Linked DNA regions of Homo sapiens. The protein of the gene in region 1 purifies or fractionates together with the protein of each later gene. This does not show direct contact. Each region holds a gene or a part of one and is shown in the gene's direction. Other genes may lie near its edges.

The links. The genes of interacting proteins can lie anywhere in the genome.
Region 2: the proteins of FBXO42 (region 1) and RAB28 purify together in Homo sapiens (affinity purification with mass spectrometry; 2 studies listed by BioGRID and IntAct, with this or other methods). This does not show direct contact.
Region 3: the proteins of FBXO42 (region 1) and CCDC6 purify together in Homo sapiens (affinity purification with mass spectrometry; 2 studies listed by BioGRID and IntAct, with this or other methods). This does not show direct contact.

What each region holds. Positions count from the first base shown.
Region 1 is NC_000001.11:16,246,206-16,251,486, reverse strand, and holds the end of FBXO42 (F-box only protein 42), read left to right. Parts: coding exon 1-817; 3' UTR 818-4,647; downstream 4,648-5,281. UniProt on the Homo sapiens protein: Substrate-recognition component of some SCF (SKP1-CUL1-F-box protein)-type E3 ubiquitin ligase complex. Specifically recognizes p53/TP53, promoting its ubiquitination and degradation.
Region 2 is NC_000004.12:13,376,341-13,383,340, reverse strand, and holds part of RAB28 (ras-related protein Rab-28), read left to right. Parts: intron 1-1,746; coding exon 1,747-1,850; intron 1,851-6,718; coding exon 6,719-6,796; intron 6,797-7,000.
Region 3 is NC_000010.11:59,812,557-59,819,556, reverse strand, and holds part of CCDC6 (coiled-coil domain-containing protein 6), read left to right. Parts: intron 1-4,801; coding exon 4,802-4,905; intron 4,906-6,761; coding exon 6,762-6,922; intron 6,923-7,000.

The sequences.
Region 1 (5,281 bases):
AGGAACGGCAGCTGTGGGTGGCTCTTCTTTGGACAGTCCTGTACAGGCCATATCTCCAAGTACTCCATCTGCTCCTGAAGGATACGACCTGAAAATAGGACTTTCTTTGGCCCCCCGACGAGGATCACTACCAGATCAGAAAGATCTGAGATTAGGATCCATAGATCTGAATTGGGATCTGAAACCCGCTTCCAGTAGTAATCCCATGGATGGCATGGACAATAGGACAGTTGGGGGAAGTATGAGACACCCTCCTGAACAGACAAATGGTGTGCATACCCCACCTCACGTGGCCAGTGCCCTTGCAGGGGCCGTCTCCCCAGGTGCCCTGCGTCGGAGTCTGGAAGCCATCAAAGCGATGTCCTCCAAAGGCCCCTCGGCCTCTGCAGCACTAAGTCCTCCTCTTGGGTCTTCTCCAGGCTCTCCTGGGAGCCAGAGTTTGAGCAGTGGAGAAACAGTGCCCATCCCTCGCCCAGGGCCTGCCCAAGGAGATGGACATTCCTTACCTCCCATTGCTCGCCGCCTGGGCCACCACCCTCCACAGTCCCTAAATGTTGGCAAACCCCTATACCAGAGTATGAACTGCAAGCCCATGCAGATGTACGTGCTGGACATTAAAGACACCAAGGAGAAGGGGCGGGTCAAATGGAAAGTATTTAATAGCAGTTCTGTGGTTGGACCTCCTGAAACCAGCCTGCATACCGTGGTACAAGGCAGGGGTGAACTCATCATATTTGGAGGACTCATGGACAAGAAACAGAATGTGAAGTACTATCCAAAAACAAACGCCTTGTACTTTGTACGAGCAAAGAGATAATGTGTTCTAAACCCCTTTCCTTTTCTGTGGCTTTTAATTTGGAATTTTCCAGTGTGTAAGCATTTGGACTGAGAATTGGGAAAACAAAATTACTCCCAGAAGCCAAAACTCTTTAATTCCCAACCGAAGTCACTCCAGGCTGGGATCAAATCTCCATTAAGAAAAAAAATTATATATAAATATATATATATATATTATATAGCCAACTCTGTTGACAAAAAAAGGGAGAGATTTCCATCCTGGTTCAGATAAAGTTGTTGCTGTGTTTTAACAGGGGCTGGGCTGCCTTTTTCTACCTTGCTGGTAACTAGACCAAGAAGTTAGAGAATAGACTAACATCAGTAACTTCCCAAAAGAAACTGAAGAGCCCCCTGTAAATCTTTATGTGGCCTTCTTGGAGTTAAAAAATGAAAGGGCATATGTAAGTTGCAAAGGTGGAGGGTTTTAGACTCTCATGCTTCAGGTGCTGTCGGGGTAAAAGTAACTGTTTTTCCCCTTCTCTTAAAACCACAGAGGACCTGTGACAGCTCTGCAGAAATGCCAGTGCCTGGCCCCCTCTTGCCTTTTATGGCTGAGGAAAGTTACCCAACAAAGGATTTTATTCCACATTTGTGTGCCGGGTCATTGTGAAATAATGTTTATGCAGCCAACATCTGACCGCCTAGTAGTGTCCATTGGTCTTTGGAGTGCTTCTTGTGTGTCTCAGAAAACATTTTGTGTCTGATTGTGGAAATTTCTGACAATCAATCATATTTGGTGGCAAGTTGCCAAAAAACATATTTATTCTCCTCTTTCTTCCCTTAGAACATGGTACTTGGAAACTGCCTTTTCCATTCACTTACAGGCTGCTTTTTTCTTCTACCTTTTTTCTTTTCTTTTTTTTTTTTCATATGTGGTGAAGTCCTAAAACCTGTCTGACTTTCTGTTTCTTTTACAAAGCTCAGGTGCCTACAGAAATCAGAAGCTGCTTAGAAATACTTGTGGAACCCTTTCCCTGGTGTCACTAGGGGGCCAGTAGGGAATTCTAAGATGCCAATATTGTGAGAAATCTTTGAAGCAAGCATCAAAAGATACTGTTTTTTCCCTATGGGCTTCTTTTTACTTCCAAAGCACATTGAGCACACTCATCCCATATTTGTAGAATGTGGAAATTGATTCTGGAAGGGAATTCCAATAACAGTTCTTTTTAGAAATGTTTTTTTCCTTGTGGTGACATATATTCCTCTTCCTGGCTATTGGCAGGTGATGGAGTTGAGAATCATGTACTTGACTTCTTGACGCATGGCTGACCTCAGAAACAGCTCCATCCTTTGCACTTGTCTTCTTCATGTGTCACCCAAATAGGGCTTGGGTTTTTACTTTCACTTCATTTCTGAGATTAAGGTGTAACCAAGTAGAGCATTTCTTTGCTTGATACAGAAAGTTACTAGTCTCAACCATGGCCTGGGCATAGGAGATGTCAAAATAAGTTTATTTCAAATGGCACCATTTAAATAGGGATTTTTGGTGATTTCTCATCAGTGGAAAGAGGATTTTTGTTTTGCCTTTGTTTTGTTTTGAAATTTAAATCCTAATTTCAAAACATCACCTTGCCACCCTGACACTCCTCTTTTTATTATTAGCGTTTCTCAGGCACAAAGCCTGCTGCAGCTGGCCCTGGGTCCTGGCTTTCAGCCAGCATCTGGCAGCCTAAGTGTACTGATAAGTGTGTTTTCTCCTGTTACATCATGCTGAATCCTTTCCCTTAGCCATTAGCTTTTATGATGTGGTCTTCGTAGGAAAGCCACCCTGGTGCCAAGCCTAGCTTGTGGGGAGGGGTATGTGTTCCAGAAACTGCTCTTTGTGTTCCCTTCAATGAGGAAACAACATGTGTCTACTTATGTGGCATCCAACTGCTTGGAGCTCCACACTTCCCTTTCGCGACTCAGGCTCTGGTGCTGTTGCCAATCCTTGCTTGGCAAAGACTGTTCGATCATGTGGGGTCCTTATTTACAAGGGAAAGCTGGGCCAGAAGGCTAGCAATTCAGGTGTTACCGCTATTGCTGTACCTTGTGTTAGGACATTGTGTTTGTGCATGGACTGTGCCTCCAAACTCAGTAGTTCCTATCTAAATATAAAGTATATTAGAAACCTGAAAGTACAGAATCTCAACCTTACAGTCTTTCCCTTAGTCCTGTGGCCTTCCTAAGCCAGCTGTTAACGTGTTGATTCCTTCCACTTCCCCCAAGTAGGCAGGCAACAGATATGTTGATTGTCTTAGAAAGTAATCTGGTTCCTCTGAACTCCATTGAATTCCAGTTTGACGCATACTGCCTGGAACCAGACTGTTTGCTTACAGCTTTTTAAGAAAAATCTGCCTTGTCTGCCCCCATTATGGTTGGTCTTGGTAGCTCCTGGGCACTGTGGGCGTGTACCATGGGAAAGTGATTCAACACAGTGAAGGTGATTGTCTCCTCAGGCCTCCTGAAGCCACCTGTGCGGTGGGACTTCACGTGTCTCGGCCAAGGCGAGCATTTCCACAATGCCGTGGATGCTGCAGTCAGGCCAGATTGAACCATGACCCCATTTTTCACATGATACCAATTTTGTCTTAAAATTCACTGAGAAAAATGAGACTAAATTTTTTTTAACCCTCAGGAGCACCTGAAGCAAATATTTATCCGTATTTATTGAAAATTCATTTTGTTTCTACTTGAAGCTTTAACCCCTTCCATTCCTGCAAGTGTGCCTTTTGAGAGCTCCCATGGCCTAGTGACTTCACTGGTCACCTTGTCCATCTTACTTAAGAATTTTAGTCTCTCCCTACCCTCTTGGACAGAGCTTCCTGTTCTCTTATTTCACAGGTTATACAGCAGAGCGGGTTTTGTGTTTTCATTCCTATTTCCACCCTTCATTTGGTTGGTGGACTCCACAACCTCACCCTACCCTACACTTTGGGAGCACAAATTTGGTGTTGAAACAAGCTTAAATTTCATTTTAGGGCATACTGGGCTTACTCTCCTCCCAGCTGTCTGTGGATTGATTTGATTTTAATGTTCGAGTTTTACAGCAACAGCTGAAAACCATGAACTATTCTAGGAACTGTGTTGGAACTCTTTAAAATAAAGAAAAGAGGAGGAGGAGGAGGAAGAAAGAAAACCAACTTAAGAAGCCTTGACTTTGGAGGACAGAAAGCCACCAGCCAATGGAGAACAAAGAGATGTTTCCCTTTCCTTTCTTTCACCTTGTCATTCTGGGTTTCCTTCTGCTTCACTCTTTCCTTCCCCCTTAAAAGTGGTATTCCTGGTTGGTCTGTCTGTCTGTCCTTGTCCTTGTGGTGATCCTGGCATGGTGATATGCTCCACTTTGCATTATCCATGGTCTCTTACCAGCGCACAAGTCAGTGGGGAGGATCTAACCACGCCTGGTGGTGAGGAAGCTGAATTTCCAGGCCTGCGTCCCATGTAGCCTCTCCATGAACTGCAGAAGGCATGTTCTGCATGGTTACCAGTAAGTGGCTCCCTCTCACCGTGTTCATTGTCAAATGAGAGCAAACTTTAGGTGTTGGCTCCATTGTACACTCTACTTGCTCTGCTCCCCTCCCTCCAACCAGGGTTCATGTCAGTGCACACCCCATGTGCCCTGGCGAAGCTGGTGCTGTGAGTGATGTTTCCCATACAACTCAGGGATGCCAGGTGGCTTACCCTGAGATAGTCATTTTGGGCACATAACAGTGTAGGAATGAAACATGGATTTCATTGATATTTAAATCTGTCAATTTCATTTTTTGTTAATGTTTTCCCCTGATGACTTTTTAGCAATTTAACAAATAAAATGGACAATTGTCTTAACTGTTTTATTAGCAAAAAAAGAAAAAGAAAAGAGGTCTGGCCGGGCGCAGTGGCTCACGCTTGTAATCCCAGCACTTTGGGAGGCCGAGGCAGGCGGATCACAAGGTCAGGAGTTTGATACCAGCCTGGCCAACATAGTGAAACCCTGTCTCTACTAAAAATACAAAAATTAGCCGGGCATGGTGGCAGGCACCTGTAATCCCAACTACTTGGGAGGCTGAGGCAGGAGAATTGCTCCAACCCAGGAGGCAGAGGTTGCAGTGAGCCAAGTTTGTGTCACTGCACTCCAGCCTGGGCAACAGAGTTAGACTGTCTCAAAAAAAAAAAAAAGAGGTCAATCACAGTGGCTCATGTCTGTAATCCCACCACTTTGGGAGGCTGAGGCAGGAGGATCACTTAGACCAGGAGTTTGAGACCAGCCTGGGCAATATAGTGAGACCCCATCTCTAAAAAAAAAAAAATTTACCCAAGCATGGTGGTGTATGCTTGTGGTCCCAACTACTCAGGAGGCTGAATGGGAAGATCACACTTGAGCTAGGGAGGTCAAGACTGCAGTGAGCCATGATTGTGCCACTGCATGCCAGCCTGGGCGACAAAGTAAGACCCTGTTACAAAAAAAAAAAAAATTGTCTTG
Region 2 (7,000 bases), on another chromosome or scaffold:
AAAAACAAATGTACACACACATTAAGTGACACAACTTTTATTTTTATTTATTTATTTTTTAATGGATGGTGATTTCAATGGGTGGCGATTTCAATGGGGATTTTTCCTCGTGACAAGATTTGTTCTTACTCTTGTTGAATTAGAAAAGTTAGCTCCAATATTATGATAAATTGGATATATAAATGTCAGTGCTAATAGCTTAGTATTTTAGTCTTCCACAAATTGATGCCTGTGGTATCTGGACATTCCTTGCCTGTTCTTGTAAATAAGGAGATAGTGATGTTTAAGGAATAGCACTCTGGCCAGAAGAGCAAAAAAAACAAAACAAAGCAAAACAAAAAGACCAGGTGCTGTGGCTCACGCCCGTAATTCTAGCACTTTGGGAGGCCGAGGTGGGTGGATCATTTGAGGTCAGGAATTCAAGACCAACCTGGCCAACGTAGTGAAACCCCATCTCTACTAAAAATACAAAAAATTAGCCGGGCGTGGTGGCAGGCGCCTGTAATCCCAGCTACTTGGGAGGCTGAGGCAGGAGAATTGCTTGAACCCAGGAGGCAGAGGTTGCAGTGAGCCGAGATCATGCCATTGCACTCCAGCCCGGGTGACAGTGCAAGACTCTGTCTCAAAAAAAAAAAAAAAAAAAAAAATTCCATATTTTCCAAGGTAAGCAATATAAATGGGGCTCAGGAATACCCCATTAGATTAAAAAAAATCTCCTAGAGAGAGAACCCTTGAGCCTACAAACTAAAGACTTTCAATATAATTTTAAATAAAGTCTTTTATGTAGTATGAGTGCATTTTTTAGTTGATAATCAATTGGCACTATTATGTAGGCTTACTAGATTTGCAAATTTACAAGTTTTTACAAGTCATTTGGGTCCCTTCCTCAGGAAATCAGTTTAAGTTTTTTTTTTCCTATATTGACTCAAAGAGCCTAGTTGTCCTTAAATCCTGTGAATATATTTGCCTTATAATTTGACGGCATTGAATCAACACCCTTATAGGGTCTGTAGTGTTGTAAAAAGAGAAACTGTTAAATAAAGGATCACATTTGGAAAAATACACTGTGCTGGATAAAACCAGTATTGGATATGAGTACTGTGCCTTGCTTTAAAGCACCTACAACTATTTAAGGAAATACATCCTTGCCCCTTACTCTCAAAATGGATACTCTAGATGGAAAACAACTGAACTATGTCTTTGTGAAATTAAAGTATGGCTATAAATTAATGTAAACACACAATGTAATATTGATCTCTTAAGCAGAAAGTTATGTATTTGTGCTAACATTCAAGCTTATAGAGATTACAGAGCTAATTATTAAAGTAATTAAACTCTTTCAAGCCAAATATGCTTGGGTAAGTACAACTTGCCTTCAATTAATCACCATGTTTAAATGTACTATATTAAGTAGATCTTTGTTGAGCATCATCAGTGTGCCTGAACTTATACAGATGATAATAATAATGATAGCGCACATTTTTTTTTTAGCACTTCTGTGCTGGTCTTTGTGCATTATACATAGATTAATTATCAAATAACTCTCTACAAAATAGGTATATTTATTATTCCCAGTTTATAGATGTGGAAACTGAGTCATAAAGAGGTTTAATAAATTGTCCAAGGTTGCACAGCTGATGTCGAAGCTGGAATATAATATTGGAAAGCAAGTCAAATTTAAACATGTTAAAAACGTTTTGATAGACTCTAATATTGAATTATTTTCTTTCTTTAACACCTTTCTAGTTGATTTGGAGCATATGCGAACAATAAAACCTGAAAAACACTTACGGTTTTGCCAGGAAAATGGTTTTAGTAGCCACTTTGTCTCAGCCAAGACAGGAGACTCTGTAAGTAAAATAATGAATACTGTATGTGATGTTTTCCTTTTATTTACTAACATTCCTAGGAAGTATACTTCCACTATTTAACTTTTGGAGCAAATTAATTCCTATTGAAAACATGAAATTCCTTAGATTAGATATAACATGTTTATTCTGGTTATATTACTTTTATAATTTATTTAACATAATTTTAGTTATTTTTAAAAGGGGAATTAAAATGAATATAAACCACCCGTAATGTCAGTATCTAGAGATAACCACTCATAACCTCATATGATTCCATCTAGTCTCTTTTCCTGATGCTCACACTAGTGCTGCTGCCTGTGGCTAGGAGATGGCATTCATTGAGTGCTTACTTTATTATAGATATTGTACTACTCTGATTATCTCCATTTTATAGATGAGTCTTAGAGAAATTATGTAATGGGGTCCAGATTACACGGCTAATAAGTGGAGGAGAGAGGATTTGTGAAGGCAAATAGTGACACTCTGGGGCTCACAGTCACAACCCTATATTTATTTTTAAAAATTAAGATTATAATATAGAAATAATTTTATATTTTACTTTTTACTTAATATTTTTATTGTTCCCATGTCATTTAATAATAGATTGAATAATTCATTTAATAAATGTTCAGAAATTTATTCAATCTTATTCTTATTGTGGAACATATAGGTTGTTAAGTTTTGAACATAATGTTCTAATGTAAAATTTTGTCCGTAAGCTTTTGGTGTTTTGATTATTTTCTTTAGGTAGATTCCTTGAAAGGAGATTGAAACATTGCCAAATCACCACCAGAAAGACTAAATTCATGCTATCACCAGCATTGTATGATTGCCATAACTACATCCTTTTAACATTCAGGATTTATCTATGTATTTATTTTAAAATCTTTGTCAAATTGGTAGGCCCCAAAAAAGAAAAAAGATACTTCACTATTTAAATTTGAATTTCTTTGATTATAATTGAGGTTGAAATTTTAAAAGTTTTATTAGTTATTCACTTTCTGCTTTTTACTTGTTATAACTTTCTATTGTATTTAGAAATTTTCTATGACCATTTTTATATTAGTGCTAATAGTCATGTATCATAATTTTTTCAAATAATCATCACTGACCCCTATTTGACTATTTTTCCAGTTGACATTTTTCAACTAAAAGAAGTTTGAAATTTTTCTGTGGTTTAAGATTTTTGATGTTTTTCTCTGTAATATCCTTTATAGTTTTACACCTAAAATAAATAATATGATGGGGGTTTATTCTTTCTTTTGGTAAGACCCATTAAAAAATTTGGCCTCCTGGAATCCTTTCCCCTCAGACAATGTGAACATGGGCACATACTCACCCATCCATGCCTTTTTAAAAAATGTAATGTCAATAATTGTAGATAAACTCATCCATGGATTCACTGGGCTTCTACCCTCACTTAATCTTCCCAGGGGCTTTTTTTGCCATTTCAGAATTATTTTAACTTGTAGTATTTTAGCTTGTTTTTAACCACTTAGTATTTTTTTGCCACTTAGTGTTTTTTGTTTGCTTATATTGAACCACTATTAAAAAACTTCATTTTTTTTAAGTGGTACTTTGAAATGGTTTGTTCTTATGAAATTACTTTAAGACTTGTAATCATTTCTAGCTCCAGGTAACTTTCTCATTGCTTGAGGAGATGAGCTCCTGGGTTACTATACTTTCTCTGATATTCCTATGTCATAATTCTTAGTGATTTCAGTATCCTTGTTTCTCCCTGATGCCACCTTAGTCACTCTTGCATACTACAGATCACATCATTACAAATTACTGTGGCTCTTCTATTATCTCAGTATCAGGCATCCTAATCACTAACCACCAACCATCTTCTATTTCACACCTTTGAGTGTCCTAACACAACCATTCTCAACCCTAGCAAGACCTACAAGACATTGATCCTAACACCTTTGCAAAATCTTAACCTCTTTTCATGTCTTCATTTTTCTCTCTTCTGAGCTTAAATCTCATGGCCAGTCCAAATCATTGCCATGCATATACTCTCAGTTCCCTTTTCCCTCTTTCATTTTGTCAGATCCGCTTGGCTAAACCTTAATTCTGGTTTAAACCAAGTCTCCACTTTTTCATGGGTGTACCCATGAACATGACCAGAGAAAAACACAGAGGCATGCTGGAGTTTTCACTTTAAGTTCACAATCACTAATCTCAAGTGGGCCCTTAATGCTGCTCAGTAATTATGCTCTATATCCCTAGTCTATCACCTCTTCCCCTCACCTAGGTGACTTTTTTTTTTTTTTTTTTTTTTTGAGACAGAGTTTCACTGTGTCCTCCGGGCTGGAGTGCAGTGGTGCGATCTCAGCTCACTGCAGCCTCCGCCTCCTGGGTTAAAGCAATTCTCCGCCTCAGCCTCCCGAATAGCTGGGATTACAGGCACCCACCACCACGCCTGGCTAATTTTTTGTATTTTTAGTAGAGATGGGGTTTCACCATCTTGGCCAGGCTGATCTTGAACTGACCTCGTGATTCACCCGCCTCAGTCTCCCAAAGTGTTGGGGTTACAGGTGTGAGCCAATGCACCAGGCCGATGACTATTTCATAGCTTCTCTTCTCTCTTCAAATGTTCAAACTATCCTCCTCTATTCTATCAGCTGATGACCTTGTTTCCTATTTTATAAGAAATTTGAAACAAACAGAAGACAACTTCTACATACTGCTGCTACCAGGTCTAACCTCATCCTACTTACCCCATCTGTTCTCATATCTTCTGTCTTCTCTGTGGTTACTATGGGATCTATTCTAGCTAGGGCCAACTTCTCCATTGTGTACTAGTCCCATTTATCTTTGCTGAATCAAGGATATTGCTTTAGCAGTTCTCTCTCTTTCATATGTATTATTTTTTTTCCACCTACTGGATTATTCTTTCAACACAGAAAATATTATGACTTCTTTTATCTTAAAAACAAGAAAACTCTTGATGCCACATTTTTTCTCTAGCTGTTGCCTTATTTCCTTCCTTCACTTTCCAGTGGATGTTTTAAAGAATTGTCTCTAGTTCTTCTTTTGCCAGTTTCTCTTCCAGTTCCAGCAGACTTTTGCCCTCAGTATTTTACCCAAACTGCTATTATTCACGTCATCAATGGCCTCCTTTTTGCTGAATCCAATGGTCAGTACTCAGCCCTCATCTTATTTTATTAAGTAGCAACATAAATAATTGCTGATCACTCTCGTCTCTTTGAAATACTCTCTGCACTTAGCTTCCAGGATACAACGCCTCCTGGTTTTCTTCCTGCTTCACTAACTACTCTGTCAGTCCCCTTGACTAATTTTCTTATGTCTCCAGCCAACTAAGGTTCAGTCCTTTGATAATCTCTTTTTCTACACTTATTCCTAATGGCTTTATTTAGTCTTCTGGCTTTGCTCAGACTTTTCCCCTGAACTGTAGACTCTTATATCCAACTGCCCGCTCAGCATCTCCTCTTAGATGTCTAATAGGCTGCCCAATTTAACATGTTTAGAACTGAGCTCTTGCTATTCCCTCCTCAAATCTCTCACAGTCTTCCTCACTTTAATAAATAGCAGATCTACCAGTTGCTCAGGCCAAAAAAACTTTGGAGCCTTTCTTGACTCCTCTTTTTCTCTCACACCCCACATCTGTCACCAAATCCCCTTGGCTGTACTTTGAAAATATATCCAGAACCTGATGACTGTTTCTTACTTTGTCCACTTCTACCACTTTGGTTCAGCCTCCATAATATTTTACATTAGTTTCTTTGCTGATTCTGTTTTTGTACACTTGGTCTCCTATAGTGAATGTTCAATACAAACAACCAGACTAATGCTGTTAAAATAAAAGTCACATTGGGCCACCCTCCCATGCCTTCCATTTCATTTGGAGTAAACGCCAAAGTCCTTCCAGTAGCCTACCAGATTTTACATGGTTTGTACTCCCTTCATCTCTTTGCTCGTCTTCTTTTATAACCACTCTTTCTCTCCACTCCACCACAGTACTTTTCCTGTTGTTCCTTGACCATTGACCATCAGTGAACTAAAATATGCTTCTTAGGGTACAAGTGGCATAAGGCTATCAGGAATATGTATCCTTTTTTGTTAGAAGTAAAAATTAATAAAGTTTTGATAAATATTCTATAAGCATGTGATGAATAGGGATAAGAATATGGTAGGACATTTATGAAGAAAAGATAAGTTATACTACAGTAAATGTCAGGATTGGAACTCTAGTAATTACAGCAGACCTGACATAAGCTAACTATGTGTGGAAAGGCTATTTATAGAAAAATATTTGTCTATTTTTGTTTAATCGTAATGGCATATATTTTTCCTTTGCTCTGAACTGATAAAATATAGTAAACAGTACCAAGTTGCTTTACTCAAGAAACATGGAGAATTTGCTGGAATGATATGAAAGGCACAGAGAGTATTAAAGTGTTAGAAACTAAGACCTTTTGAGATAGGCCAAAGGTGGCTAAAAGGACCAAGATAAAACCGACAGTGAAAAACTAGGTTGGTAAAGTATAGATTATTTTTATTTTCTTCAGGAATTATGGGAGTTTTTATAGTAGTAAGTAGGATTGTTTTGTTGTTTTTTAAAGTGGTAGCTGTAATCATCATGTTAAATCTTTCATGTGTGTGTTTAGAGAAAATGATCAATTCATTGAATTGCATGGAGTTTTAAATTATGGCTTTATAATTTAAAAATTATTATATTTAAAATGTTGCTACATTTGACAAATAAAGCTATTTTTGGAATCACCTGCTATATCATATTTTTGCAATTATTGCTGTTTATCATTTTTAAGAAAATTCTGTTTATTTGAAGATAACTTAAGCATGCCTCTTTTAAATCATTTAAACCCATTTTTGTTATGTAGGTCTTCCTGTGCTTTCAGAAAGTTGCTGCTGAAATCCTTGGGATCAAATTAAACAAAGCAGAAATAGAACAGTCACAGGTGATTACCTTGAACTTTATATTTAAAAAATTAATGAATTTCTTACAAGGCATTAATTTTCACCCATAAATTCTTTCCCATTTATGCCTTCTGTGTACGTATCTCTAAAAGCTTTGGGAATAGATTGTATGTATGAATCAGTGTTTATTGCAGAAGATGGAGAATGTTAACTTTTTGCCAAATTATGATACCCTTGAAACCTCA
Region 3 (7,000 bases), on another chromosome or scaffold:
GTTTTAATTGGCGGAACTGTTATGTTCACTTTGGCTCTAAGTATATAGGATTTGGAATTAGGTGGGCAGGAAGTGGTGGGGAAACTGATAAAGAACTTCAGGGGAAATTAACCAAGGGACTCAATATGATTTCCTCTAACTTCTCTGCTCTTTAATGTCAGCCAGAGCTCCTCAACAATGCTGAAAAGTTGAGATTTTTAAAACTGAAAAAACAAGAGGCCCTGCTCTTTTCAGGGTTAAAGATAATATAGAGTCCTGTAGCACTGCCAGCCTATGTAATGAAATACAGTAAGTCCTCACTTAACATTGTCAGTATAGTTCTTGGAAACTGACTTTAAGTGAAACAACATATATGAAAATCAATTTTACCAGAAGCTGATTGATATAAACAAGAGTTAAGTTCCTATGACATATTTCTGGTCACAAAAACATTATCACACTTCTAAATAAAGACCCAACATACTTCTGATATTAAATATTGAAACAAATATGAGTTATGCATATATTAAAGATTAATGAAAACCGTATAATTACCCCATTTTTAGTGAATCAGTGAGTGATGGTCATAGTAGTGATGTGTTAAATCAAGGGATAAATGTTTGCAAAGTAAAAATTGTAAGGAGCACCTCCTCCCAACTCACAGTTCAAAAGCAAATAGTAACAATTACAGCGGCTTGCTGAATACTTGCATACTGCATCATTGATTTTCATGTGTTTGTATGATTAGCATATACTTTATGAATTTGTATTTTACAATAATTTGTACTCATTCATTTTCTAACGTGCTTATTCCAGTTCAGATCAAGGGTGGCTGGAGCCTGTCCTGGCAGCTCAGGGCACAAAGCAGGACCCAATCCTGGATGGGGCACCAACTCATTGTAGGACACACTCATACACACACTCTTACTCACTCCAGAGGGACTATGTAGACATGCCGATTGCACATCTTTGGGACATGGAAGTAAACTCGAGTATCTGGAGAAAACCCACACAGACATAAGGAGAACATGTGAACCCTACATAGACAGAGGCCCCACTGAGAATCTGCTTCCCCCCCCCCCGTCAACATTATAATAAAAGGACGTTGAACATTCAAGGACCTACTGTACTTGAGAATCCACACGGCTGAGCTGGGGCTTCCTGTGTTGCCTGCATCATGGAAATAAATTAGTAGAGCAAATTGGGACAGCAAACCCAAGTTTCACACTCAGGGTGCCCACGTTTGCTGAGGTGGGCAGTAGATTGATAGCTGGTAACTCTACCAACAGATGCCAGGAAGGAGCCGAGATTCACGTAGAGCTCCAACCCATGTTTCCTGATCTCGTCTGTTTCCAAAATCGCTCATAGACTCCCTAAACTGTCCTTATTTCCCTGGCATCAGCTACCCCCAACTCTGCTACTCCCAAGTATTGTTGGCAAAGGAGATAGGCCCACAAACCACAGCTTGATTTGCCCTAAATCCATGTTTCCCTCAAGTTCCTCTGTACTTGCTGGTTGGACAGGACCCAGCAATTTTGGCTGCCATGGTGACCGATATCCGTTCCTATCTTGGTGGCATGACTGCCTGAGTCATGTCATCTTGCAGGCTAGTGGTTTCCTCAGCTTTAAAATGATGATTTGCCATGCTGCTTCTGGCTCTAAATGCGTGTGACGGAACTAGCCCCGACTGAAGACAGCTACTGTCTTGACATTGGGCAGGGAATGACAGAATGGATAGGCCAGAAAGGGACCACAGGCATCATCCAGGCCAAACTTCTCATTTCATAGATGAGGGCATCGGAGCTACAGCAGCTGAGTGACCTGCTCAGAGTCACATGCCTCATTAGTTACATATGGGTAAAGACAGCTTTGTCTTGATTTTGCTTCTCAGAGTTATTGATTAGTATTATGAGTATTTACTCTAAAAGTAATTGAGTATGCATTTCTCCACTAGACATCATACCGCAAAATGATGCCTGCTTGAATTTTTTTCTTGCTTATCAACTACCTCTACCTCCTATGATGCTTTTAAACACTGGAATTGGGATCCTTAAAGGTAAATGCCTCATAGTTATTTGTTTAAATAAACATAATTCTGAGGCTGGGGGCAGTGGCTCACACCTGTAATCTCAACACTTTGGGAGGCCTAGACAGAGGATTGCTTGAGGCCAGGAATTCAAGACCAGCCTGGGCAACGTAGCAAGAACTCATCTCTACAAAAAATAAAAAATTAACCAGGTGTGGTGGTGTGTGCCTGTAGTCCCAGCCACTTGGGAGGCTGAAGCAGGAGGAATGCCTGAGCCCAGTGGGTTAAGGCTACAGTGATCCATGATCGTGCCACTGCACTCCAGCCTGGGCAACAGAGCGAGACCTTGTCTCAAGAAAAGAAAAGAAATGACTGTGGATTGTACTTCAAAGCTTGGCCAAAGTGTATGATGAATGCAGAGAATCACAAGGTTTAATAGGAGTCATATAAGGGTCCCACAATTTCTCATTGTTGCTGCAGGTAGGAATTGTTTAACATTCTGAGGAGCATTTGCACGTTAGTGGGGTCCCAACTTTGCGGCACAATATATTTGACTTATTTTGACACCCTGCACCTCCTCCTTTTTGCCCTTGAACTGTTCTTCAGAATCAAATTCTGCCATGCAAAAACAACATATTTTGAAGCTCTGTTTCCAGTTTGCTACATAATCATGGCTTATTCACTTGTCAAATAAGCCCTCTAATATATATTGATGGCCTATAAGGTGCCAGATGTTATTCTAGATACTGAGGATGTACTAAGGAATGAAACAGACAAGACAAGTCCCTTGTAGGACTTACATTGTGGAGGGCTGGAACAGAAATAGAACGGATATCCAGATATAGTGATTATCATAGCCAAAAAGTGTTGAGTGCTTTCTAAGTGCCCATTAGTTATCAATGGTTTACCTAGATTTACAAATGTAATGCTCACTGTAATCCAATGAGCCAGACATTATTTTTGTCCCTTACTTTGCAAATGGTAAAATTATATCTAGTAATTTTCTCAACATTTTCTAACTAGTGATTGATGGAGCTGGGATTTGAACCTAGGCATTTGGCTCAAAGTCTATGATCATAAGACAGAAGTGTAATTACAGGAGTCTCCCCCCAATGCATTGGCTGCTGTTTTGTGACTGTACCTGTTTGTAGGAAATATTTTAAATATTCAAATGGCCAGTTGTTTCTACAGCTATTTTTATGGCTTTGAGAGGAGAAAAGAAAAGCCTAGAGCTGTGTCGTCACAGGAGAGTTTTTCCCATCTGTTTGAGACCTCCTTTTTTTCTCTAAACTTAGAACATAATGATATCATTATCCTTATATCATTTCCTCTCAGGTCTTGATTGTTCAGGTTCTGAGGCAGCTGATTTTATGCATATTCATTCTGGCTCAGATGTGGAACAAGTAGCTGCTCACCTTCATTGGCTGTCCTGTGCTCCTGTGTGAATATGGGCAAGTCTTTTGCTCTCTGTGAGCTCCTTAAGGACCTTGGGTGGTGTTGGTAGTACTAACCATCTCGGGAGGTTGAGATTGTTGCTTCTTAAGACTAAGCTACGAAGAGTTTCAGAAAGGGGAATGTCATTTGGCTGTAAAAGTAAAACCGCACTTTGGATATTATTTTCTGATGTTTGATTGCTTTAAAAGACTACATTTTATTCATGTTTTTGGTTCTGCCTTATGTATACACACGGGATCTTTGGATGAGGAGCTTGCCTCTGTGACCCACTAAGGAAATGTGGAATCTATTAACATCTTTGTGCAATCAAGAATAATTTGTTGACTCAACCATTGAAAGGTGAATTGCCACTGGTTGAAGAAATAACATGGAAGCAGTAGCATAGGCTCTTTGCATTAAGAAAAAATTTTTAATTATTTAATATGTCAAGTACGGAGAATGATAGAATACATGTCCTCTACTCATTGCTATGAAACCTCTTGCACTTTCAGTCTCTCTTACCAGCCCTCTTTTTCTACATATCTGTTTCATACTGTTTCACAAGTATATAATTGTTTCATTTACTGTCTTGACCCCCACTAAAAGGAAGATCCATGAGGGCAGAAATTCCTGACTCCTTGATTCACTGCTATGCCCCCATTATCCAGTCATTGTTCTCAGTATTTATTACATATTGCTCAATATTGATTAATTGAATTTTCCCATGTTTGCTTCATTGAAATAGAACACTGTTGGGGTTCCCTCCGCAACTGCAAAGCCTCCCCCAAATCAAATTTTCTTCCTTCCCTAAATCCTTAGAGTAACCTAGAGTAACCAGTATTGTGGATTTGGTGTTTATCATATTTTGTGCGTGTTTTTATATCTTAGTACATGTTTATTTATCTCCATTAGCCAGTATGTAGAGTGTTTGGGAGCTTTTAAGAGTTATTTATATGAATAGTAATATAACCTTTCTGACTTACTGTAAGGGACAAGCCCGGAAGAATAACTGTAAGCCCAGAACTGTAAGGGACAAGCCCAGAAAAGTCCTGATATGACTAGTACACCGAACTCCCCTAAAGACCTCTCTAAGGAGGACTTTCCACTTGCCTTGAATAAATGCTGAAACAAGCAATGCATTTCATGTACCAGACAACAATTAAGCATTAACATCCAAGAATGAACCTATCTAGTTTTTTTCAAAGTTTAAGAACTAGATGCACTTAATATGTTTGTGCCAGAAAATTGGCCACATGTTTGCAGTATTCTCCAAGAAAAGGGGTCCTAATTGTTCAATCAAAAAATGTATTAACAAAGTATAAGTGGCCTGACACTTTGGTAACACTTTTTTCCTTCCTTTAGTTGAGACGGGAGAAGATTGACCTTGAAAATACATTGGAACAAGAACAAGAAGCACTAGTTAATCGCCTCTGGAAAAGGATGGATAAGCTTGAAGCTGAAAAGCGGTTTGTTTAGTCTTGCTGTTCAGTATGGGTGTGTGTGTGTGTGTGTGTGTGTTGCTGCTCTGGGTGTGACTGAGGAATAGCAGTAGGACACCTTAATTCTTTGGTGATGCACATCATTTTAATTGGCCAAAGGAAAAAAAATGTTGAAAGCCTTCTGAACTATTCCCATGTTGGGCACCTCTTTATTCTTTGCTATCATACTGTCCCAGTAGAATTTCTTTTCATTTGGTGTTACAAGGCTATGAGAGAATTAGTCATGCTGCTATTGTTCACCTTTAAAGTATTTTCAAGAATGGTTGCAATTTCAACTTTCCACCTTATTGAACTGGCTTCCTCAGTTGTTTTGTAAAGTACATAGGGTATACTGCGTACTATTATTTATACATCTCTGGAATTTACTTCTTTAGGAAGCCTGAGATTTTAATAATAAAATTGTTTTAAAACCTACTGTAAAGAAATACCTTTACATACTTAAGGCTAGGATTCTTTATATAAAATGTATGTACTTGGAAGTGGAATGTCACTCAACAGCAAACATTTCTTAAACCTCTTTGTGCAAGATAGTTAAGCCCTTATTTTCAAGCACTGAGTACTTTGGAGTGTGTGAGGCAGGGCTTGTAAGAATGGGAAGAAGATTCTGTATGTGGAATGTGTGTACGGGTGTAAAAAGTGAGTTTCTTAAAAATGGTCATTAATCTACTTCACCAAGATCTTTTGTTTGCTACCCAGAGCCCTTCCTCCTTAAGTATTTGGTTTGGATGCATATTTGTAATTGTTTTGAGTTCATGTCTACATTTGCAAAATACAGGCATACCACATAGCTTTAAGAAAAGTGAAAATTAGAGCTATATCTATAAGAAATACTTGTTATAATCATATCCACTATGCTTTACTGATAGGTATTATTGTAGCAGTACTAATAAGTTGAATTACGAAAAGTCATTTTATGTAATAAATGCAGGGACCATTATAATATTTAACACACTAGTTTTCTCAAGGGTAGACCTGGATGGAGGTAACTCAGTTTGCTCCTGGACAAACTCAAAGGTACAAAGCAAAAACAAAACAAAAACCCCAGCAGCTATGGAAAGGGATTTAGAGATCTGCTGCCAAAGGAAGACTTTGTAAAAGGCAGTTGGAGGTTTTACATGTATTAGTGCCAAATTATTGGGTTGAACAGTATGGAAGTTTGCATTTTGTAGGTCAGAGCTATTGAATATCAGTATTTTATATCCTTCAACATAAAAATAATTGGTAAAGAAGGTGGCACTACTAATTATTAACCTAACAATTTTGGTTTTGTTTTTAACTTTTTACCTTTGCTGTGGCCAAAAGCAAAGGGCCGCTAGTCCAGTTTGCCATGCCCTTGCAATTAGTTTTGCAGGAGGGAATTTTAGAAGTTGAGTCTCTGTGTTACTTTACCCTCCAAGGAGATTCATAGTAGCTTAGAAGCTTCAATCAAAAGCCGTAAGAAAATGGAATTTCCTCAGCATCTTCATGCACTAAACCCAAGAAGTTGAACATTGAGTCAGCAGGTATTTCTAAGTGCATACTGTATTCCAGGCATAATTATCAGATCCTGTTGTTAAATAAAGACTTTTCAGTATTGTTTAATTTAAAACATTTAATAGTCATTTAAAAGGAAAAAGGGAGATTAGAATCAGCTCTGCCCTTTGAAGTGAGACACCACGTAAGGGCAGAAGTTTGATGTAAAATGGGCAGAGGAATTAAGCAACCCTGTGAATTCTGGCAGTAAACAGGAGTTTGCTTTTAAAACAAACCTGCCAGCTAGTATGTTGTTTTGTCTTTTCAAGGAAAACTGTTAGTCATTGTTGGAATTTTTCTTTTCAATGAAGAATCCTGCAGGAAAAATTAGACCAGCCCGTCTCTGCTCCACCATCGCCTAGAGATATCTCCATGGAGATTGATTCTCCAGAAAATATGATGCGTCACATCAGGTTTTTAAAGAATGAAGTGGAACGGCTGAAGAAGCAACTGAGAGCTGCTCAGTTACAGCGTACGTAGCCTCTGGTTTCACTAGTTTCATGCCTGTAGAATTAATAACTTTACCAAATATAGGGTATTACCAACATTT